5 separate regions of the Homo sapiens genome follow, and regions 2, 3, 4 and 5 are each reported to be linked to region 1. Evidence: microRNA targets listed by miRTarBase, many of them from high-throughput screens and not tested one by one. Region 1 holds a microRNA gene; each other region holds the end of a gene's coding sequence.
What was found. Region 1 holds the annotated microRNA hsa-miR-4680-3p (UCUGAAUUGUAAGAGUUGUUA, at 2,346-2,366, shown strand). A microRNA usually pairs through its seed, bases 2 to 8, with sites in the 3' UTR of a target mRNA and lowers its output. Matches are read on the target gene's strand: a 7mer-m8 pairs with bases 2 to 8, a 7mer-A1 pairs with bases 2 to 7 and ends in A, and an 8mer does both.

Region 1 (4,662 bases):
AACAAATCTACTTTCTGTGCTTCTCACGATTCAAATCTGACTTCAGTTTAACCATTTGAATATTTGGCCTTAAATACAAATTGATGACATAGTGATGGATTGTGTTTTATGACATTTATTTTATATGGGCTAACAATTCTGCATGTAATTTCATTGTTGTAGGGTTATGAGAGAATTTACAATGAAATTCCGGACATTAATCTGGATGTCCCACATTCATACTCTGTGCTGGAGCGGTTTGTAGAAGAATGTTTTCAGGCTGGAATAATTTCCAAACAACTCAGAGATCTTTGTCCTTCAAGGTACTTTATTTAAATACTACTTTCTCAATGTAAAATAGTGGATGAGATCTTTGGGAAGGTTAACTGCTAAGTTAGTTTATCGTTCCCTGAAGTCACTGAAGAACGTGACTCTTGTGAGTTCATGGAGAAAGAAGGGCGAAGCTTGTTTTAGCCCCCTTGTAAATCTGTACAGGACTGCCTCATGAAGTCCTAGTTTATTTGAAAGAAACTAATCTTGTGGAGCAGGTCCTTTGTTGTAAGTAGTTTCAGTGTTTAGAGTAGGTATTATCAGTGATAAGATGAGAAAATTGAGGCTTAGGGAGGTATAATGTACTTTTTCTAAGGTCACATGGCTAGTACATGGTAGAAGCCAAGTATGAATTCAGGACTTTTCTGGCTTCAAAGATCTAGGCTCTTACCTGTACTGGATGTGGCTTCCTTGACTTCTTTACAGGTTGGAGAATTAGGGCTAATTGGATGTTCTCACTAGAAAGTGTGTGTGTTGGGGGGTGTGTGGAGGATGTTCTCACTGGAAAGTGTATGTGTGTGGGTGATTTTCCTTGGAGCTATTAATATTTTTGCTACTAGTTGGTAAGTTTTTTTGTTGTTGTTAAAGCTAATAATGAAGCTTATAATGTAATAATATAAATGTTTAGTAATAGCTAAACTTTTTGCTTGTGTGGGTCAGTTTTATATAATCTTAAGTTCTTATAATTTTTTATCTGGAAAATTTCTTAAGCTTTGATATTTTTAAGTGCATTGTAAGAATTAAAAGTCAGAAAAATATTTCCTGGTAGGGGCCTTTGCTTTAGAATTTTAGAAGCCATTAAAAGAGAGGGAAAAGAAAGTGATGAAAGATAGTTTAATAGCTTTACTAGAAATGTTTGGAAATACAGACGTTAGCTTGGTGATGGCAGGATTTATGTATGGATGTGCCAAGTGATATACATCAGTAAAAACTCTGAACTTTGGCCTTCTTATTATTGACTGCTTTTTCATTCCCTACCTTGGTCTCATACAGTCTGAAGCCTTTATGTTCAAGATGATGTAGCTGTTTTCCACTTAGACTTAATATGAAAAGGGGCCAGTACCCTGGCATTGGCTTTTTGAAAGTTTTTCAGCCTCTGTTTGAAAGTCTGATTGTTTCTGTGTGGCTTTATTCTCAAGGGTCACATGAGGCAATAAACTTTCTGTGTATACATACCATACAGCTTTGACTTGGGTCCTTCATCTTTTAGCCTATTTGGGTAAGGTGCACATTTGTGTGTGGTTTTGCATGCTTGTGCCTATTGGCCTGGGGTCAGAGAGTAAGGGCTAATGTTGCCTAAGTTCTATTTCCCACTTACTGCTTTAGGCCACTGGCCAGCTGTTCCTTCTGGGCTATTGCCACTACATGTAGGTAAGAGTGTGGTTACATTATAGAGCAGGGCTTCTTGAGTTTGACAAAGCACGAATCCCAAAATGGGGCATAGGCTGTAATTCTGATTTTTTTCCACATTCAAGTTATGGCTTTTCTACAGTTGATAAAACATTTTTTTTTAAATTGCCAAACATGGATATTTTGATAGGTTGCACAGCTCCAGTTTGCATAATTCTGAATTATGTTAGTGTTTCCTATTTGGCTTACTGTTAAGCTTACAAATAATAATTAGAAATTAATTAGAAATAATTTTAAATTTCTAAATAAAATGTTTTAGTTTGAGTCAACTTTTTTTAATGTGACTCTGTTTGGATAGTGAACTTATTAAAACAAAAACTCAGATTTGATATTGATGTTTTATGCTAAGATATATAGTAGGGAGTCTTTTCCAAAGGAATTAGAGGCATGCTTTTTTTTTTTAATGGAAAACCCTTTAAAAGCTAACACGTAACGAAAAAATACCAAGTTTTTAATTTTTTTATATATTGACTATAGTCAGAATTTGTATCTGTTTTCATGTCTTTTTTTTTCTTCATTACAGGGGCAGAAAGCGTTTTGTAAGCGAAGGAGATGGAGGTCGTCTTAAACCAGAGAGCTACTGAATATAAGAACTCTTGCAGTCTTAGATGTTATAAAAATATATATCTGAATTGTAAGAGTTGTTAGCACAAGTTTTTTTTTTTTTTTTTTTTAAGCACTTGTTTTGGGTACAAGGCATTTCTGACATTTTATAAACCTACATTTAAGGGGAATTTTTAAAGGAAATGTTTTTTCTTTTTTTTTTGTTTTTCGAGGGGGCAAGGAGGGACAGAAAAGTAACCTCTTCTTAAGTGGAATATTCTAATAAGCTACCTTTTGTAAGTGCCATGTTTATTATCTAATCATTCCAAGTTTTGCATTGATGTCTGACTGCCACTCCTTTCTTTCAAGGACAGTGTTTTTTGTAGTAAAATCACTGGTTTATACAAAGCTTTATTTAGGGGGTAAAGTTAAGCTGCTAAAACCCCATGTTGGCTGCTGCTGTTGAGATACTGTGCTTTGGGAGTAAAAAAAGAAAGTTATTTCTTTGTCTTAAAGAATTTTTAAAAAATTAGTCATGAGACTTATTCATCTTTCCAGGGAACATACTGATTGGTCTTAAAAGACTAGACAGTTAAGTAAAAGGTGGCTGGAACATCTATTTTTCTACAAAACTGGAAAAATGAACCTGGTTCTAGAAGAATGTACACCAAAATAAAACATGTGAAGCAGTATTGATTCTTTATTGGGAGTACATTTTTTTAGGTCTCTTAAACTTTAATTTCACACAGTAAATTTTGAATCTCATAAGGAAGCATATTTGAACCTAGTCAATTTAATCTTAGTGTTCCCTTGAAAACTTTTTTTCCCTACAAAATTTTAAGTGAAAAATACAATAGTAAATTAAGATTACACTGGGGAAAAAAATGCAGGTATCACTTTACTCCATTGTTATCTGACCTAGAGCTTAATTAAGTTTTAGAAATATGTAATACCTTCCATCATTCCATCATCCTTAAATTCTGTTACCAAATAATGGCTAATGTTACAAAAAGTTATACTCCAGAGACCCAAAGCTTGACATTTACCTAATGTATGAGAAAATATTACCAATTAACAATAAAGAATGATCATATTTTTAACCTCTTTTACATAGCCTAATAACTCAGCAAGGCCTCAACGTCTGTGCTAATTTAAACTGCCAAATATTGACTGCAGCAAACAAGAATTATATTCAGAATTTATGAGGGTACTGTTAGGAGTATACTGCTTACAGGTTTAGATATAGTCTGTTAGAATTAAAACCAAGTTTAGTGTTCATATTTACCTCATGGGCTTTATCAAGCCCATATTACCTCAGCTTATATATAGTTACCATTTTTAGGTTTTTAATTGTTTGACACTTGGATGATAAATGCAGTCATTTTATTCTCAAGTGCTTAAAATTAATGTAATTAAAAGCTTAGCTGACTACAGAATAGGTGAGGGTTTCTTAAAAATGAGATTTAAGGGCTGGGCACGGTGGCTCATGCCTGTAATCCCAGCACTTTGGGAGGCCGAGGTGGGCGGATCACTTGAGGTTGGGAGTTCATGACCAGCTTGACCAACATGAAGAAACCCTGTCTCTATTAAAAATACAAAAGTAGCCAGGCATGGTGGCGCATGCGTGTAATCCCAGCTACTTGGGAGGCTGAGGCAGGAGAATTGCTTGAACCTGGGAGGCAGAGGTTGCAGTGAGTCGAGATGGTGCCATTGCTCTCGTTTGGGCAACAAGAGTGAAACTCTTGTCTCAAAAAAAAAAAAAAATGAGGTTTAAGACAGTTTTGTCATTACTGGTGGGATCTGGTCACACAAGATAGCATTAAACGTGACATGGCACATAAAATTGGTTAAAAAATTTTGTTTTTTAATTACGTAATGTAAAAGCCCAACAAACACTTTATGCAAGATTGGAATGTATCTTCAAATTCAGATTTAATAAACATGTAAAGATCCTCTGTATATAAAAGTTGTATTTAATCCCTTGTGCCCAAGAATGCTATAAAAGATCCCAAGAATGTTATCTATAAAAGATAGCAATAGGAATGGTGAACAAATAATTTAATTTGCAATTCTAAAAACATGACTTAAACCCCATAAAACTTGGTTCATAGTTTAACTGTTTATGTTCAATACAAACCAGAGTGTTTACATTCACAATACAAATTTCATCAATCTTGGATATTTTTGTATTTCTATGAATACTATCAATTTTATTGATAACACATACTACTTTCAGCACACAGAAGCATATTTTCTAGTTATTGTTAAATAGTAGATAAGGCAGGTTGTTCCCTAAAGTGCTCAGTTATCATTCAGTGGGTTATTTGCCGTTGATCCTTTTCTGCCATTTCTTGTTGGCGAATTGTATTCTGTGCTGCTTGATGCATTTTCTCTAGTTTT
Region 2 (4,835 bases), not on the chromosome of region 1:
TAAGCAGATCCTTGAGTCCGATGCAAAAGGCATCATTCAAAGATAAATACATCAAAAGGCAGTAACTGAGGACTAACTTGAAAAGTTTGAAAGGTGAAAAAATAGTTCTCTACATATTTTCTGTTTTCAGGAGATGAGTATGATGTATGTGCCATTTGTTTGGATGAGTATGAAGATGGAGACAAACTCAGAATCCTTCCCTGTTCCCATGGTATGAGTAATTACGTACTGCTTTGAATTTACATATAGTAATTTATATTTAGGTTCCATATTCCAGGGGAAGAGATGGAAAATAGTTATTAGCACACCAGAAGCCAGGCCCTGTACTAATTAGTGGTCTCATTCAAGGATGGAGGTGTATTTATAAAAATTTATAAACTTTCAGGCCGGGCATGGTGGCTCACGCCTGTAATCCCAGCACTTTGGGAGGCCGAGGCAGGCAGATCATGAGGTCAGGAGATCGAGACCATCCTGGCTTACACAGTGAAACCCCGTCTCTACTAAAAATACAAAAAATTAGCTGGGTGTGGTGGCGGGCGCCTGTAGTCCCCAGCTACTAGGGAGGCTGAGGCAGGACAATGGCGTGAACCCAGGAGGCAGAGGTTACAGTGAGCTGAGATTGTGCCACTGCACTCCAGCCTGGGTGACAGAGCAAGACTCCATCTCAAAAAAAAATAAAAATAAAAATAAAAAATAAACTTTCTTCCCGTCCCTACATGATACATACAGAACACTGAATAAATATGGCAAGAGATTAAATATAAAAGTATCAACCGCAGCATACTAACTAAAGATGTATATTTTGCTTCAACAGCTTATCACTGCAAGTGTGTAGACCCTTGGCTAACTAAAACCAAAAAAACCTGTCCAGTGTGCAAGCAAAAAGTTGTTCCTTCTCAAGGCGATTCAGACTCTGACACAGACAGTAGTCAAGAAGAAAATGAAGTGACAGAACATACCCCTTTACTGAGACCTTTAGCTTCTGTCAGTGCCCAGTCATTTGGGGCTTTATCGGAATCCCGCTCACATCAGAACATGACAGAATCTTCAGACTATGAGGAAGACGACAATGAAGATACTGACAGTAGTGATGCAGAAAATGAAATTAATGAACATGATGTCGTGGTCCAGTTGCAGCCTAATGGTGAACGGGATTACAACATAGCAAATACTGTTTGACTTTCAGAAGATGATTGGTTTATTTCCCTTTAAAATGATTAGGTATATACTGTAATTTGATTTTTTGCTCCCTTCAAAGATTTCTGTAGAAATAACTTATTTTTTAGTATTCTACAGTTTAATCAAATTACTGAAACAGGACTTTTGATCTGGTATTTATCTGCCAAGAATATACTTCATTCACTAATAATAGACTGGTGCTGTAACTCAAGCATCAATTCAGCTCTTCTTTTGGAATGAAAGTATAGCCAAAACATAAAAAAAAAAAAATCCTCAGTATAGCTTGCAATTAAGACCTAGATCACAGTATTTAAGTGTTTTGCGTTTTATACATGAGGTCAGTGCTACAGCCACCTAGCATGAACTAACCCAGCTTCCACCTCCATAAAGTTACCTAGAGTTGTTGAGTTGGAATATGTTCTGGCATTTACCTGACCTGCCAATCATTAGGGAGAGGCAACAAGGTAATTCAGCCTTTCCTCCTATCAGCACAAAGAAACTCAAAGCTGTTTTTTCCCTTTCTGTTCCAAAGCAGTCTTATCCTGACAGGAGCGGTCTATACTAGTGCAGATTTCAACACTTTTTTTTAACGTTTTAATTACTATAGTGTTATGTAGAGATTTGATTGAGCAGCTAATGTTTCTGAACTTTACTTACTAATTTTCAGTGTCCTTAAGGGTTCTGTAGTGTTATCAAAGCAAAAAGAAAATGCTGCATAAAAATACCAAACTTCAGCAACTGTTAATACTCAGATCATATACCTCTTAATAAATAGCATCTTATGCTAATTAGCCCTGCTAAACTATGTACAGAGGAAACTGTTCAAGTATTGGATTTGAAAGTAAGTGACTTATGTTTAACAGAACTAATGATGTATTGAAACACTGTATTATGAAAAGCTAAATTATACATCATTGTAACTATGTAGAAAGTGTAGACTAATGTATAATCAAAATGCTAAGGATTTTTATATGGCCTTGTATGAGGGGAGTTTGAATGTTAATAAACATGTTTTCCACTTTAAGATCCAGTAAATGTCTGTTCTACTGTAGTATTACTTACCATATTAGCCTTATTTATATATATCCTATAAAGTGATAATGATTGAGGTCAGAGAAATCACATCACCTTAGGACTTTATACAAGGTAACTGACCATTCACATGCAGTTAGGTAATATCCCAAAAAGTTTAGACTGCTGCCAAAATTATTCCAAAAATAAACAGTGTACATTTTGGTACCCTGTTGTAAATTATGGTATATCGAGGGAAAATTTCACTTTCCAAATTGCCTTTTAAAAAATAATGTTCATAATCAGGAAAAAAATAAATAGGTATTTCTACTTTGGAAAATAAACGGTTGAATTCAACATCAGCTATCTGATACCTCATCCCTCTTCCCCTTTTTTATAAAAAATTAAAGAACCACAGGCCTGAGAAACAGGACATCAAAGGTTACCACGGTAGTTAAGCAGAGTTTGGAATTTGACATAATTGTATGGCCCTAACCTTTTTAAACCTGCTTGGTCATTTGCATAATTTTCATTTAACCTAAGAGGGTGTGAGGAGAAAACATTGAGCTCAGTATCTGGCACATCAATGCGCAATAAGTAATAGCCTTCAAAATAATTATTATTAAATAAAAACAAACCTAAAACAATATTTTAAAATAGGAAAAGGGAAAAAAGTAAAAAGTCACGGTAATGGTTAAGTATGTATTAGATGTTATATTCCCTCAGTCTTTAATCCAAAGTTTAGAATAAGGACCTGGTCCCTTTATGTTAGGAGTTTTATGGAAAAAAAAATTTTTTTTTGAAATTCCAAATAATTACTAACTAACTGTAAAAAAAAATCTACGAAGTGTCTTATTTAGCAGCACTGGCTAGGGCTGTTACTAGGTTCTGTGAATGTTCACTTGAAATGTTCTATAATTTCATGGTATAGCTTTTCAAACAGGACAGTAGGTGCAATTAAAATCCAATTTCTATTTAAAAAACATTTAAAACTTTCTTGATTACAAAAGTAATATTAACACTAGAAATCAAAATATAGTCACCTGGAAACTTTCACTCCAGAGATAAATTTATCTTAATATATTGCCTTCAGAAATACATATGTAAAATACATGTATATTAATACTGTATGTATGTGCACTGTCATGTGACATGTTTATATCCTTATATTATTAACATTCATTGGTAAACATTCTTATGTCATTCTTCAATGACTATTTTGTCCTATGGACTTAAAATCATTTATTCAAACCATACCCCTTAAAAAGCTGAACTTTGTAGATATTTTCCAAGTTTGGATGTCATAAGTAATGCAGCATGATGGACATTCTGGTATACAAATTTGTATAGCTTCATTTCCATATGCTAAATTCCTAGAACTAAGTACAAAGCAAAGTACGCATGTATGTATTTCCCTAAGTATTTTTCTAATGAAATTGTGGGTAGAAAGCCAATGAATAGTTTCATTATATACTATTTTAGTGATACACTCACCCTTTACCACCTTCTCTACCCACAACCTCCTCTCTGAACACACACATACACACTGCCCCTTCACCTACTTACAGATTAATTAAGAGTTTCAGAATTTTGGTCACTGCCTTCTATAATTGGTTACCCTAATAGTTCTTTACATGTAAAGTGTGAATGTGTATTATTGTAAAATCTCAAATCATCACAACTCAACCACCAAATTTTCATTTGCCCCGTCTTTTGGCCTTAACAGGTCAAGAAACTGATACCAGGTTTTTATTATAGTTTTACAATTTCTAGGTTATGTCCAACTACCAAAATAGCCCCAAATCCTTTATCTCCCATATTTGTACATCCCTGTGTATGTACAACCATATTCACAACCAGTGCCTGACAACTAGTCAAAGAAAAAAAAACTTTCATTATGCATAGTATATTTTAAGACAGGTTAATTCCTATTCCCTAACCCATTTTTTCTCAAAAGGTAGCATATACACCACTTAAAATGAATCAGACTGACTCAGTGATTGTTTCTGAAAAGGGATTCCTGGGCTTATGGACTCTCCATCTCCAGAGTGGAACCCCAGAGTCCATAGTCTGCCTTATAACCAGCTCCCCAGTTTTACTGAGACCTACTAACTTTTGAGCACCCCTGGCTCTAAGCGTCCGCTTGACAGTTGTTGGTAATAATGATTTATGTAAATAGCCCTAAATTTACATATTTATCAAACTTCAATATATATCAGGGATTTTATGGCCTCTGGATTTAAACCTATTACACAGCCATGGTCAACATGTCACTACAAAGCCAAAAAATGCAAAAGCATCCCAATTATCTTATATGCTGCCTAAGGAATGTCTTCTGCTCTTATGTGGGAGGGCCCCAGCTGGCTGACTTCAGCCTGCCAACACAGCTTCCAAATCTAAAGTCATATGACATTTCAATACAGAAAAATCCACAATAGTGCAGAAACCCTTCTTGGTACTCCCTTTACTATTAGATTTCACATCTAGAAACCAGCAAGAAGAGGAAAATACTTATTTTCTAGCAGATAAGTCAGTTGCTTCTCACATACTCCTGAAGATGAGCCTGAAATGACTAAAAGCTATGTGTAACAGATCAGAGTCCATTAAAAAGAAATTCCCAGGCACTAATTTTATCTGTAATATTA
Region 3 (4,855 bases), not on the chromosome of region 1:
TTGTCGTTTCTAACAACGTGACTGTGCCTGGCTTAGGCAGGATGGCAGCTGATCTGGGGGTGGGGGTCTCCCACTGGGCTCCACGTCTCAGCTCTGTTAGGGAGTTACAGCTCTGTCAAGTCCCTGCCAGTTACGGAGTCGCTGCTCCTTGCGTACAGTGAGGGCAGTCAGACGAAATCCAAGGGGCGCTGTCCGCAGAGAGTCTGCCGTGTGCTAAGTGGTGTCTTCCTTGGTTTCTGCAGGACACAATGTTTGCACGAGGACTGAAGAGGAAATGTGTTGGCCACGAGGAAGACGTGGAGGGAGCCCTGGCCGGCTTGAAGACAGTGTCCTCATACAGCCTGCAGCGGCAGTCGCTCCTGGACATGTCTCTGGTGAAGTTGCAGCTTTGCCACATGCTTGTGGAGCCCAACCTGTGCCGCTCAGTCCTCATTGCCAACACGGTCCGGCAGATCCAAGAGGAGATGACGCAGGATGGGACGTGGCGCACAGTGGCACCCCAGGCTGCAGAGCGGGCGCCGCTCGACCGCTTGGTCTCCACGGAGATCCTGTGCCGTGCAGCGTGGGGGCAAGAGGGGGCACATCCTGCTCCTGGCTTGGGGGACGGCCACACACAGGGTCCAGTTTCTGACCTTTGCCCAGTCACCTCAGCACAGGCACCAAGGCACCTGCAGAGCAGCGCCTGGGAGATGGATGGCCCTCGAGAAAACAGAGGAAGCTTTCACAAGTCACTTGATCAGATATTTGAAACGCTGGAGACTAAAAACCCCAGCTGCATGGAAGAGCTGTTCTCAGACGTGGACAGCCCCTACTACGACCTGGACACAGTACTGACAGGCATGATGGGGGGTGCCAGGCCGGGCCCCTGCGAAGGGCTCGAGGGCTTGGCTCCGGCCACCCCAGGCCCTAGCTCCAGCTGCAAGTCCGACCTGGGCGAGCTGGACCACGTGGTGGAGATCCTGGTGGAGACCTGAGCAGGAGCCCTGAGTGCTCACAGCCGCCTCTGACGCATTGACACGTGAGCACTGGCTCCCACGGAGGGTGCGCCTGCCGCCAGCGGCCCAGCCTTGCTGCCCTGTCTGCTGATTCTGAGAAATCCCAGAACAGCCCATTACCAGTGGGGCTGCAGCCCTAGGCCCGTCCCACTCACCTCCCCCCTGTGGAGCGCCAGGCAGAGGCTGTTCTGGAAGGCTTCTTGTCTTCTGACGTCCCCACAGCCCTGGGCCCCTCGTGTCTCTTTGTGTCCCCCACTGTAGAGGACGGTGAGCCGCAGCTGCATCAACCTCCTTTTACCTTTAGATAGGTGAATTTTTACAATTCAGTTTTACATGTTTTGGGCAGTATTTTGTCTTAAGATATATTTTTTAAACTTTTTATACCTTATCTCTTTAGATTTTTTCAGCTATTTTCTTAAAAGTATATTTTTTCTATAAACATCCTTTGCTGCTACATTAGAACTTTTATAGCCTAAACAATTGCAGTTGGTGTGTTTCATTTTTTTAAGGTTTAAATAAGGGTTTTTTGTTTTGTTTTGTTTTTTGCAGTGAGCATCACTACAGTCTCAGTCAACAGTGTGAATGTATCATGTTTTACTTTAAATGTGTGTGTGATACTTCTTCATTATGTCCTGCGCTGCAGTGAGACCTGGGTGAAAATCAGGAGCCGCACACAGCCACATCTTCCTAGACCTAAGAGTAAATTATGGAGGATTTTATTTATGTCTATTTATATGTAAATGTCATTGAAGACAAAGGTCAAATATTTGTCTGTTTGTAGATCACAGGCACCAGTTGGTCTTCAGGGACCTCATAGCCCCTCGGTGGTGCCTTCTCAAGGCAGTGTTCCTGGAGGCTCCCATCAGGGTCAGCCCATGCACCTGCCCTGGGTGAGGAAGTAGCATTGCTGCTGGATGAGAAACGCCTGCGCTGCTCTGTTAGACTGGTGCTGAAACAAAAGGTTAAGGCTAGGTTGAAGTCTAGAATGAAAGAAATCTGAATCCATGTCATTCATAACCCCTTGATCTGTAGTGTCATGGGTGCTGCCGCAGGCAGGGAGTGAGCTGGGGGTGCCTGCAGCCTTCCACTCCTGCCCCGCCTCACCCCACATGCTCCCTGTTTCTCATGCTTTCTCTAACTTCCTCACCCCTTAACCAAAAAGGTGTGTTTTCTTTTGTGCATATAGCCATTCTTAAATATCAGTGATGTAAACCTCACTTTATTAAAAAATTATCCAGCAAACAAAATGGGAATGTGGTGTTAGTTACGACCACGGCCTGACCCTCCAGCAACCTTTCTGCAGGATCAGTTCTGCTGTATTATCTGGTGGTGCTTTCTAAGGTGGGGAAAGGAATTGCACTTGGCTGCATTAAATGGACGCTGGGTTACTTTTATTTCCCCCCCCCACAGGGTTGCAGAGCAAATTCTTTTTACATTGTTCAGCGCCCGGCTGGAGTTGGGGGTGTCCACGACCTCTGACAGCCCCCGATGTCGAAAGTTAATCCTCATGGACCCTAGTTTAAAGGGTATGTGTTTTATAGGAATAAATCTAAAGCACTATTTTGTTTCTGTATAGCATTTTTATCTTTTAGAAACATCATTTGTTCAGCATTAGTAGTAGTTGTAGTGCCTGTTTTGGTAGCCTTCAAAATTATAAACTGCTCAGAGAATGTGACTTTTGAGCGCTTTAGGGGTGCTTGGTCGGAAAACAGACTGGGTCTGTGGAAGGACCACAGACAGGAGAGAACAGCTGCTGTGACTTAGAAGTGTAGCCGGAGTCTCATTCCCTGGACTCGCCGTGTTCACCTGTGACACCGTACACCAAAGCCTGCTTGTTTCCACCGTGGTGCGCAGTGGCTGAGTAATCAGCTGTTTTCCAAGCATCATTTCTCTGCAAGTTTAGTCCGTGTGTGTGGCTTTGTTTTTTTTTGTTTTTTTTTTTTCTTTTTTTTTGATGGAGTCTCGCTCTGTCTCCCAGGCTGGAGTGCAGTGGCGCGATCTTGGCTCACCGCAACCTCTGCCTCCCAGGTTCAAGCGATTCTCCTGCTTCAGCCTCCCAAGTAGCTGGGATTACAGGCACCCACCACTACGCCCAGCTAATTTGGTGTATTTTTAGTAGAGACAGGGTTTCACCGTGTTGCCAGGATGGTCTCGAACTCCTGACCTCATGATTCACCTGCCTCAGCCTCCCAAAATGCTAGGATTACAGGCGTGAGCCACCGCGCCTGGCATTCTTGGTTTTTTGACAGGATTTAACTTTTGTTGCCCAGGCTGGAGTGCAATGGCGTGACCTTGGCTCACTGCAACCTCTGCCTCCCAGGTTCAAGCGATTCTCCTGCCTCAGCCTCCCAAGTAGCTGGGATTACAGGCATGTGCCACCACGCCCGGCTAATTTTTATATTTTTAGTAGAGATGGGGTTTCACCATGTTGATGAGACTGGTCTCGAACTCCCAACCTCAGGTGATCCACCTGCCTCGGCCTCCCAAAGTGCTGGGAATATAGGCGTGAGCCACCGCACCTGGCCATGTATGTGGTATTTTTAAGTCTGTAGGTACAAATTGACTTTAATTGGGAAGAAATTTTCCAAGTGTTTAATAATTTTGTTTACAAAATGTTTATTCAGAAACAGAAATACAAATTCCAGTCATCTAAACTTGGCACTGTTCTCTGCGGTTTGCTTCTGGCCAAACTGAGGGGAGCGGGCATGTTAGTTGACAGTTTCCCAGGGGCGTTTCCTGACGTGTGGTGGGTACCCCTCACGTGCAGCATGCCTTGCACACAGCTTCGGAGCCCCTTCTACCTCAGAAGTTCGGTTTCTAGGGTTATAAAGTAATGCACGTTTATTTGAAGACATGGAACCAGTATGAAGATAGCAGACTCCTCCCAGGGAACCGATCTTCCTTTCAGGGGTGACAGCGCACCTTGGAGAACGCTACCTGCTCCGCCCACAGATGCCTGCGCAGGATTTCCTCGGGGGCGGGGCGGGGTGGGAGGGGGTGGTCTCCACAGGGCTGAGCCCAGCCATCTGGGCCTGGATCCCTGCTGGGCCACATCTGGGCCAGGCGCCTTCTCCCAGGTTCACTCCTTAGTGAAGTGGGCCCGGCAGTGATGGAAGGAGGACGCAGCAGCAAACTGCGGAACAAGTGTGGACATTGTGCTCACCCTGTGGAGTCCAGGTAGCCGGGTGAGCAGGCTGGCGGAGCCACCGGAAAGGGCCGGGCTGGGGTGGGTGGGTGTCTGAGGTGTGGACACTTGATGTGTTGCCTTGGTGTCTACCTAAAGACAGAGTGGTGGGATCACGTCCCTCATCATAAACTCTCACAGTTGGTTTCTGGGTTGCTAGAAGTTTCTATCTGCAACCAGCGAGCCGTGTCCTTAAACTGGGATTTTGCTGTGACCTGAACCAAGCTTTCCATGTGGCAGTGCTGTGTGTGCTGGGTTGCTGCATTTACTCACAGGAAGGCCGCTGTTCCTTCTCATGCCCTGTGTGGAGGTGGCTGTGTCCTCAGTGCCTGCTCAGGGTTTGTAGTGGAGCCAAGCAGGGAGGGGAGTTGTGATGTGTGGATGCCTGAGGGTTCGAGGGTAACCTCCCTTTCTCAGTGATGAGCCTTTGCAGTATTCTCAGGAGTGGCGATCGCCCGTCTGGGAAGATGTGACTGCCAAGTGCAGCCCTCAGTTGAGGTGACACATGTTGCTTGGTCGCTCCAGCAGACTTGCTGCAGCTGGACAGTTTAAGCTCTTGGGGCTGCTTGCTGCCCCTTGCAGGCGTACACTTCATCGGCCCATCCCTCACTCTGCTGTGCCCCTGGGAGATAAGCCCCGCCTTCTCAGATCCGTCCCCCTTGCCTTCCACGCTGGG
Region 4 (4,000 bases), not on the chromosome of region 1:
AGGAAATCCACAGATTGAGACAAGCTGTGGAAATGGTCAAATTAAATCTGACTCTTCATCAATCTGCTCAGTTGTCAGTATTACTAACGGTGGAGGAGCAGGACAGGAAGGAACCTCACAGTAGTGACACTGAACTGCCAAAAGACAAACTTTCCTCAGCAGATGACCATCGCGTGAACAGTGGGTTTGGACGTGGCCTTTCTGATAAGAAAAGTGGAGAAAGTCAGGTTTTATTTGAAACAGAAATATCACGGAAACTCTTTGATACCCTTAATGAAGACCTCTTTCAGAAAATACTGGTACCCATTCAGCAAGTATTGAAAGAAGGCCACCTGGAAAAGACTGAGATTGATGAGGTGGTTTTAGTTGGGGGCTCCACTCGTATTCCTCGGATCCGTCAAGTCATTCAAGAGTTCTTTGGAAAAGATCCCAACACATCTGTAGACCCTGACCTAGCAGTAGTAACGGGAGTGGCTATCCAAGCAGGGATTGATGGAGGCTCTTGGCCTCTCCAAGTCAGTGCTTTAGAAATTCCCAATAAGCATTTACAAAAAACCAACTTCAACTGAATTCTGCAGAAATAATGGTTATTTGTGAACTTGTCTGATGATCTCTTCCCATTTATCAGATTACCTTTTCCACAAAAGAAAGTCTCTAAAATATCACAGATTTACCTAGAGGGCAACATTTAGATACAGGAAAATTTTACATAGTGTTTTGTCTTAGGATTAGACGTGACCAGATTGATCCTGTTTGATTTTGGAGAGATCCTATTCTAACAAATACTCTAAAATGATAAAATTGAGGTACAACTCTCTTAAAAGAGTATGGATAACTATATTTTCTGGATTCTGGAGGTTGATAACCATATGCACTTAACATTATATTCTATAAACATTAAGTAGTGCCAGTTATGAGATTCCCAGTTCTTACTAAATTGTATTAGCAGGAGCTGGTAATTACTTGTATTATCACATGTAACTAATAATTTGAACTATACTTGAAGGACCGTGTTGATGTCAGGTATTTACAGTGGTTGGAAGATAGCAGTATTATTAGCATAAGCTGCATACGTAATATTCAGTAACTGCCATATTATATAACAAATTTACATTCACAAATTCAGTATCCTGTTAAGTGTCATATTCTTGTAATCTGCATTCTCCAGGAGTTTTATGTGTTTAATAGATGAATTTATTTTATTTCTAAAGGTATTCAAATGTTTCAGCACCATATAATAGAAATACCCAATTATATTCTAGTTCCTTTATGTCCTGTACATCATTCTCTGCTTGGATTTCCATTATTCTGTTTGGTTAGAGAATAAAATTGGTAATTGCATTTGAAGAATGTGTTAATGTCATAATAAAGCCATGATTGCTATCTTATTTTTGTTATCCGAGACCTTTGCAAACATTGGCAAATAGCATCAATTACCTACTGTATTTGTTTCTTTGTTTATATTTTCAGTAAGCCCTGGGGAATATAGCATGGAATTGAGCTACTAAATGGTTTTGGTTCCGTTTTACGGAGATTTTTCCTCATATTTAGTTTTGAATGAGGAAAATGTGCTCAATTATAAAAGCTGTGTTATTGTTTTCTATTATTATTTTTAAATAATCACACTTGGACTCTTTTCAAACATTAGGTTAGTTTGTAATGAAAGCAAAAAATTTGTGAATACTGGAAGTAACGTGGAAATCTAATGTGGAAGCCATTGTGGCAAGGTTTCTACAAATCGGCATTTGGAGCAGAGTTGTTTGTTTTTGTTGTTTGTTTCCTTTAAGAAAAACCACAGGGACCAAGAAAGAAAATATAACAGTTTGATTTCTGTCATACCCATTGTATTTGAAGATATATGGATACAGATTATATATATATATACATATTTTCCTTAATAGAGGAATGCTTCATATTATTCAAAAATTATATCCTGATCACCTTTTTTTGTTTTTTATTGTAAAGTATCTCTGCTTTATCCATTGCTGAATTCGATAGGATGTTGAAATGCTGGTCACCAAAAAAGGAAACTGAGCAAATTCATTTCAACAACATCAAAACTTCAGCTTCTCATAGTAAAAAGCTGAATGTTACTAATATTTTTCATATCTAAAAAAAAATTCTTAGCAATGAAATTGCTGTTAAAACACAAATTTCAATCAAATACTTTTGTGTATAGAAAATATGTATAGTAGGTAGATAGAAAAGTATAAAATGTTTGTTGAAGTATCTTATTTTAGAATGAATGGAGAAATGCCAAAGATGAATCCTTCACTGCATTATGAAAATATTTCACATGTTCTCTTGGACTTTATATAAATCTGTAATAGATTTTAGAATTGAAAAATTCTTTGTGAAGGTCTTCTAAAAGTGTTCCAATTTATCTCAAAATCTCCATATATAGGATCAGCTTAAAACATAAAGAAAACCTTGAATTTCTCAAATGTTTGAGATGTTCAAGACAGTCTCTTAATCCGTTAATGCTTTTGGAAACAATTGACAAAATAGGGCAGGCAGCTCATCTCATGTCCTGAAGTTGGAATTTAAATAATTCCTATTTGCAAATTAGAATGACAGTGTTGGAATTTGGAGGCAGTAGTTGAGCATATTCTCTAGTATATAGCTACACCTTTAATAAAATGAAGGAATGTCTTCAATCATATTTTAGTGGGCTATTTATAAATAGTCTTGAAGTCAATTTAGTTTATTTATTTAAAAGATAATGCATCCTGAAAGGGATCATTTATGAATAACAATCTGAAGTCTTTTCATAAAAAAAATTAATAAACTTTAGTTGTACATTTAGCCAGTGTTATTTGAAGTATGTAACTTTTAAAATATTAAGTGTCTTGTATGATTAGAATATGTGAATGAGTAACTTATTTTGTATCAGGAATGTTTTGGTACTGTGTTTTCACTCAAACCACTGACTTAACAGATACTGCTGTGTATAACATGTACTAAATATTACAGTTATTGTGCATAACAGATTGTTCCTCTTATATTTGTGTGTATACAGGCAATTCATGTTTTAATGTAAATAAATACCATTTTGCAGTTTGTTTTTTAAACTATGTACTTTTTCATTCAGGACTAGTCTGGAGTATACTTTTCAGGCATATAAATAAGAAAGTGAGGATGGAACTGATTTGATGCCAAGGCACTCAATCTCAGTAGCTGTTGCCTAGTTGTTCCCGAAATGTACATTTCTCTATATCCTTTCTATTGCTTATATGCTTTCCACTGGCTTCTCTAATTTAGAAAAGACAACTTGTAGCATATGAACAGTATCTTCAGAATTCTAAATACTAATTCATGGCTTCTGACCACGATGGAGCCAGAAACTAAGCTAACCTAATCTAGCTAGTTAGTAAATAATCCTGCATAACAGGATTCCTTTGGTTGATGGTTAATAAATATTTCTCTAACAAAGTTTATATTAGTCTTTGGACAAAAAAACAATATATTATGTTTTGCTTCTTTAAGAAACTCATTTGATTAATGTAATCTAAGATGAGCCTTTAGGTAATGACGGTATACTTGACCTTGGAGAGACTCAAATATATGAGGAAATACAGCAATACTTCATATTTATCTTAATTAACAGATAGTGCCTCACTGAGGTAGGCAGCCTCTGATGTGGGACCCAATGATCCCACCTTGTGGAATTAACATCCTTGGGTAATCCTATTCTCTTGAATTTGGGCAAGAGATAATGACTCAATGCTAATGAATAATACGGCAGAAGTGCTGGGATGTCATTTCTGAAATTAGGTTTAAAAAAGATCAGCTTCCTTCTTGGATGCACCCTCTTGCTGGCTTTCTCTTTTGGATCCCAGCTGCCACATAAAGAAGACCATGTGAAGAAGGCTGTTCTGGTGAATACAGGTGTAGAAAGACACCCTAGAAGATGAGAGCCACATGGAGGCAGAAAGGTACCCCCCACTGACAGGAGGCACGAATTTCCAGCTATGTGAGACAGCCTTCTTGAAATGAACCC
Region 5 (4,855 bases), not on the chromosome of region 1:
GCGTTTGAGTTTTCAGTTGTTTAGCCTGTAAGATCATCAGGATTTTATCAACAGGATATTTAGTCTCTGTTGCTAACTCTGCTGTATTTTACCAGGTAAAGGTTCTAAATAATTAATAATAAAATGTTTCCAGAAAATTTATTTTTAGTTTAGATGTAGTTCAGCTCATCAAACCTTTTAGGAATCAGCAACAGCAAGAAAGAATATAGTGTGGAGTCATTTGAAACTGTAGCATCTAGAATTTTTACCCTGTACTGCTTTAGAGTAAGCAGAAAGATGAGTGTAATACAGGAAATAAAGAGAATAGCAGAAATATCTTCAAATTATTATTTCTTCCTTCTTTCTCTTAAGCTAATAGAGTTTTAAAATGAGTCAAATACATATTTTAATTGATAAACTGAGTTTATATTCACCTATTGGAAACAGTACAACATATTTTACATCAGGTTATGAAATATGGATGTTTTACTAAAAGACAGGAAGAGCTTTTTCCAGTCTTTAAAGTAAATACATATTCAAAGAATCTTAAGGCATACCATTTATTCATATTCATATCTATTGAAATACTGTACATCCACATACTTCAATAAATAGTTAAAAACCTGACCTCTTTTTAAATCATTTCTGGATTTCAAAAAACAATTTTTATTGAAAAGATTAAATAGGTAACTTTTGGCTGTGTCACAAAGCTAAGCACAATGGATAAATTAACAATTGTTCAGTAAATTTGATCATTATAGATGATTGACTTTGATAATTCAGTTTTTCAGAGTTTTCTGACTTCAAATGTAGGGGTATTTATATATATATATATTTTTTTTTTTCCCTGAATTACCTGGGTAATTTTCTCAGTTCTCCAGTCTACTTTCTAGATATAGCTTAAATGTTATGATGAAGCATTAATTTTTCAGTTAAGTTATAAACCCCCCAAAAGTGGCTTTAAGTTTGAAATTCTCCCTCTCAAATCTTTTAGTGTCTCAAAAACACCCACATTACTATAACTTGGGCAGTACTTTTTATTATATAATTGCTGCATAATAGGAACTTAATGGTATAATAGGACTTATGTTTCAAATGCGATCATTGAAAAACGTAGTTACACCACTTGCAGTTAAACTAAGAATGCAAATGTGTAAGTTAACTACCCTAATACTCTGATTCTTCCTTCCCTCTCATCCTTTCTTTCTTCCTACCTTCTCCCCTTCCTCCCTTCCTTCCTTCATTCCTTCCATCCTTCCTTTTTTTCCCTCTTTACTGCCTTTCCTTTTCATTCTTTTTCTTTTCTCTCCATTCTCATTTTTAAACTGCTACTTATTTTTCTTTCTTCCTTCTTTAAAAAAAAATAGGGGCAACAAAAGGAGTCCCACAAGTGGAACTTGTAGAAAATATAATCCTGAAATGAACAGCTAACACAAATTGTTATAGATTAAAAGATAAATCAATTTATAAAACTGCTATTCTGAAATTGCAACAATCTTGTACAGTCAGGACTGATAAAATGGGGTAATCAGACATTTTATATGTCCATAAATGTAAAATCATCTACTTGAACATTATATGCAATACATTCACACAAAAAAGCAAATACTGTAGCCTTATTTGACAATATTGAACTCATAAATACTCATGATTTCACTCTGTCCGAGGGCCTAAGGACTAGGAATGCTGCTGTGATACAGAAAAACATAGTGAATACCTCCTCTATTTAAAAATGTCACTCAAGAAAGTCTCTTCTAACATAAAGGCAAATACATATAGCTACTGAGCTATGACTGTACTTCTGTCACATTCTATGGTAAAAACACCAGACTCCACAAATTTGGAATCATGACAACACTTTGAACTAATTATTTGGTTCATCCATAGTTTATACCTCAATTTACCTACAAACCTTACAAAGAGGAGGTATTTTAACTCTAGGAAAGCGGTCACTGAATAATATGCATTCTTGATCTGTTTCTTTCTCCCAAACAATGGTACTGATGGTTAACATTTTTTGTGGTAGCACCACTATTTCTAGTAAGTAGATTATTATGGAGTGTGCCACTTTAAAGCTGCAATACAAAATAATATTTTATAGTTTATTCAACAATTCCACAAAGAATATTTCTTAAAAGCAAATAAATAATAAAGTTAAATGCCATATTTGTTCTAAAAACTCTTTTTTAATGTATCAATCAAAATAATGTCATACATTTATTACAGTTAGTAGATTTACTAGCTTTATGCCTTATTATTGCCATTTTGTGGAAAGAGTATACTTATGTCCCCTCATTTAAGATTCATTTTTCTAATTAAAATTGATTTATGATGTACTTTGGGACTAAGTTTTACTTGAAGAAAAAAAATCACAGTTTTTAAGCCATCCCTGCTAGGGCAACATACTAGATATCTCAAATATGTATAACCACTGCAAAATTTCTTGTATCTAATTTTATTATAGGGTCTTTGTTGTTACAACTTGTAAAAGGGGACTATTTGTAGAAATTTAGGTGTACTGAAATTGGTAACTTCATCAAACCTGTAAAATGGCTTTCAAGGTGATGGCCTTTCTTTAGTAAAGAGTGAAACCATCAAACTATTCCTGTAAATTAATGTTAGAGTAACAGCATTTTCCTTCAAAAATGTAGTTTTGCTTCTTTATAGTAGAAATAATTTAACATTCACAATAATTTGATAATTACTTATCTTAAGATATTCTCATCACTGGTGTTTTGTCTTTATTTGATCGCATCTTACATATATCATGTAAGGAAAAATAAAGGATGGTCTTTTTTGATTTTACTTGTTTGCACTGAAATGGCTATATAGAAAGATTTTATTGAAGAATTAGCTATTTTAGAGATTGGTCTGCTACATACCGATATAGAATGTTTGTTATAATATATTTTGGAAGTTTTAAAATATATAACATGCATTCCAGACTATCAACTGAGTGATACTTTCAGATGGAAAATATGCAAAATGCTCCTGTCCACAGGAGCACTGCCTCTGTCATACTAACTTAGCTGCCACAAAATAAAATTAATGATGAGCGCTTACCAACTCTTGTAATATTAGGTGATAGGACTTTGTGCCCTTTCTGACAAATCATCTTAAAATTTTTGGCTTGGACTAGTGAAAGGAAAAGATGCTGTATTGCTAGGCAATCCTTTGAGTGGACTGTGCTGTCATTTTAAAGGGAATGATTTCCCACGGTGGATCTAACATTTAGCTACAACTAAAGAAATCATATGGTATATTTACTATACTGTTATTAAATTGTCTCTCATCACAAGAACTGAGTTAGTGTGGGGCAAAATTCTCAAACCCCATTGTCAGTGCAGGAAGAGATTTTTACAGTCCAATAGCTCCTTCGTTACTTAGAGATAGTGTATGGTTTAACTTGATCACTCTGGTTTATTTTTACTTTCAAATTGTAAGATTTAGCAAAACATTTTATATTAGTTGGAGACAAAGAGAAAAATATTATTGTATGAAGGCACACCCATGCTGAACTTACAGGAAAGAGAAGCAGAGCTGCACAGCCAGTTATATTACAAGGCTCATTCCTGAAACCTGAATATCATGCGAGCAGAAAAATCTAGATATGTGTTATATTTTGAAGAAATAATCTGAAGGCAATATTATTTGCTTTTTTATCAAAAAAGAAAAAAATGCATCTTTGTAAATGTGGATTGACTCTTATTGAAACAGGGAACTGAATGCTTGTATTGCAGCCTTAAAGAATCACATATTCACTGCAATATTCGTTTTTGTAAACTACAGCCTGCAACCTAGCAGACCATGACTGAATGCTTTTGAAAAGTTGTAGATTACAAACATGAAATCACAATTAATATCCTCTAAAAGTAATTTCAGAGCTTTCACGTCTTAAAAAAAGGACAATGTGTACTGCTTCACAAGGTAATGTAGCTAATCAAAAAAGAGTAGAATTAAAGTATTTACATAATGAGCAATTCTACAGAAGGCGATCATCCCCATGTAAGCACTGCTGATTATATCCCACGCTGCTTTTAACAAACTGTACCAGATTGGATCCAGCCATCAGCACTTTCAGAGAATCCTTAAAAGCCTTTTATGGGTCTTTGAATTTATTGTAGAATGGCATTCTTCAGGTAGAATATGCTGGTGAAAGAGGACAGTGTCAACACAAGGTACCAGCAGGAGAAAAGAACATCAGCGCTCCCGGTAATTCCATACTGGGCTGTACTTGGAGCTGGAAAGAAATGGAAAAGATTAAATCAAAATCTAATTTGTGTCTTCCAGGATCTTGACAATAATCAAAAGGTAGCCAGGTGCATCGGGGAAAGCACTGACATTGGAGTCAGACAGACTGAAGTTCATATCTGATTCTGCTATATGACAACGTGTGGGCTATGTGGCTAACTTCTCAGAGCTTCAGTTTTCTCAAGGGCAAAATGAAAATAATAGAAATAATAGAATCCACCTCACAGGGCTGTGGTGAGAATTGGAGATGAAGCACATACAGCATATTACATCAACTAAACACATGCTAAGTACTCAACAGCTACTAACATTATTATTCCTCTTATATGTACTGTAAATATTTGTATTAATGGACAAATAGTCATTCATGTGTATATATAGCTGTGTTTTATTAGCTAAATACTGTACTAAATGCTAGGAAAACAAGAATATTGTCCCTTCCAAGGCCTTTTTTTGGTGAGAAAAGATCTTCAAACAATTATAATACAGAATATTAGAGTTGCATGTGCATACCCAGTAACACAGACAAATTGTGCTTTTAAATTGCCTGGGTAAGGGAGATTTCAAATACAGTTTTACTAAAGGAGACTATCATGTGGGTAGAAGAAATAACATATTCGAAGGC

Region 2: miRTarBase lists RNF13 as a target of hsa-miR-4680-3p. Seed matches in the 3' UTR shown: 7mer-m8 at 1,396-1,402 and 7mer-m8 at 1,646-1,652.
Region 3: the mRNA of CDCA4 is a reported target of hsa-miR-4680-3p. Seed matches in the 3' UTR shown: 7mer-m8 at 1,316-1,322.
Region 4: miRTarBase lists HSPA13 as a target of hsa-miR-4680-3p. Seed matches in the 3' UTR shown: 7mer-m8 at 1,120-1,126.
Region 5: the mRNA of NEGR1 is a reported target of hsa-miR-4680-3p. Seed matches in the 3' UTR shown: 7mer-m8 at 827-833.

What each region holds. Positions count from the first base shown.
Region 1 is chr10:110,895,786-110,900,447 of GRCh38, forward strand. MIR4680 (microRNA 4680) reads left to right here and starts at 2,305; the gene lies at 2,305-2,370. It overlaps PDCD4 (programmed cell death 4), which reads left to right. Exons shown (of 12, transcript NM_014456.5): 11 at 163-302; 12 at 2,243-4,221. The coding sequence ends at 2,303. It overlaps BBIP1 (BBSome interacting protein 1), which reads right to left. Exons shown (of 4, transcript NM_001195305.3): 4 at 2,945-4,662. The coding sequence ends at 4,575.
Region 2 is chr3:149,959,926-149,964,760 of GRCh38, forward strand. It overlaps RNF13 (ring finger protein 13), which reads left to right. Exons shown (of 10, transcript NM_183381.3): 9 at 131-211; 10 at 815-2,214. The coding sequence ends at 1,179. Among named protein-coding and RNA genes, the nearest start is that of PFN2, 8.6 kb to the right of the region's middle.
Region 3 is chr14:105,007,323-105,012,177 of GRCh38, reverse strand. It overlaps CDCA4 (cell division cycle associated 4), which reads left to right. Exons shown (of 2, transcript NM_017955.4): 2 at 243-2,605. The coding sequence starts at 249. The coding sequence ends at 974. Among named protein-coding and RNA genes, the nearest start is that of CDCA4, 11 kb to the left of the region's middle.
Region 4 is chr21:14,370,186-14,374,185 of GRCh38, reverse strand. HSPA13 (heat shock protein family A (Hsp70) member 13) reads left to right here. Exons shown (of 5, transcript NM_006948.5): 5 at 1-3,071. The coding sequence ends at 569. Among named protein-coding and RNA genes, the nearest start is that of HSPA13, 11 kb to the left of the region's middle.
Region 5 is chr1:71,403,352-71,408,206 of GRCh38, forward strand. NEGR1 (neuronal growth regulator 1) reads right to left here. Exons shown (of 7, transcript NM_173808.3): 7 at 1-4,219. The coding sequence ends at 4,095. Among named protein-coding and RNA genes, the nearest start is that of ZRANB2-DT, 320 kb to the left of the region's middle.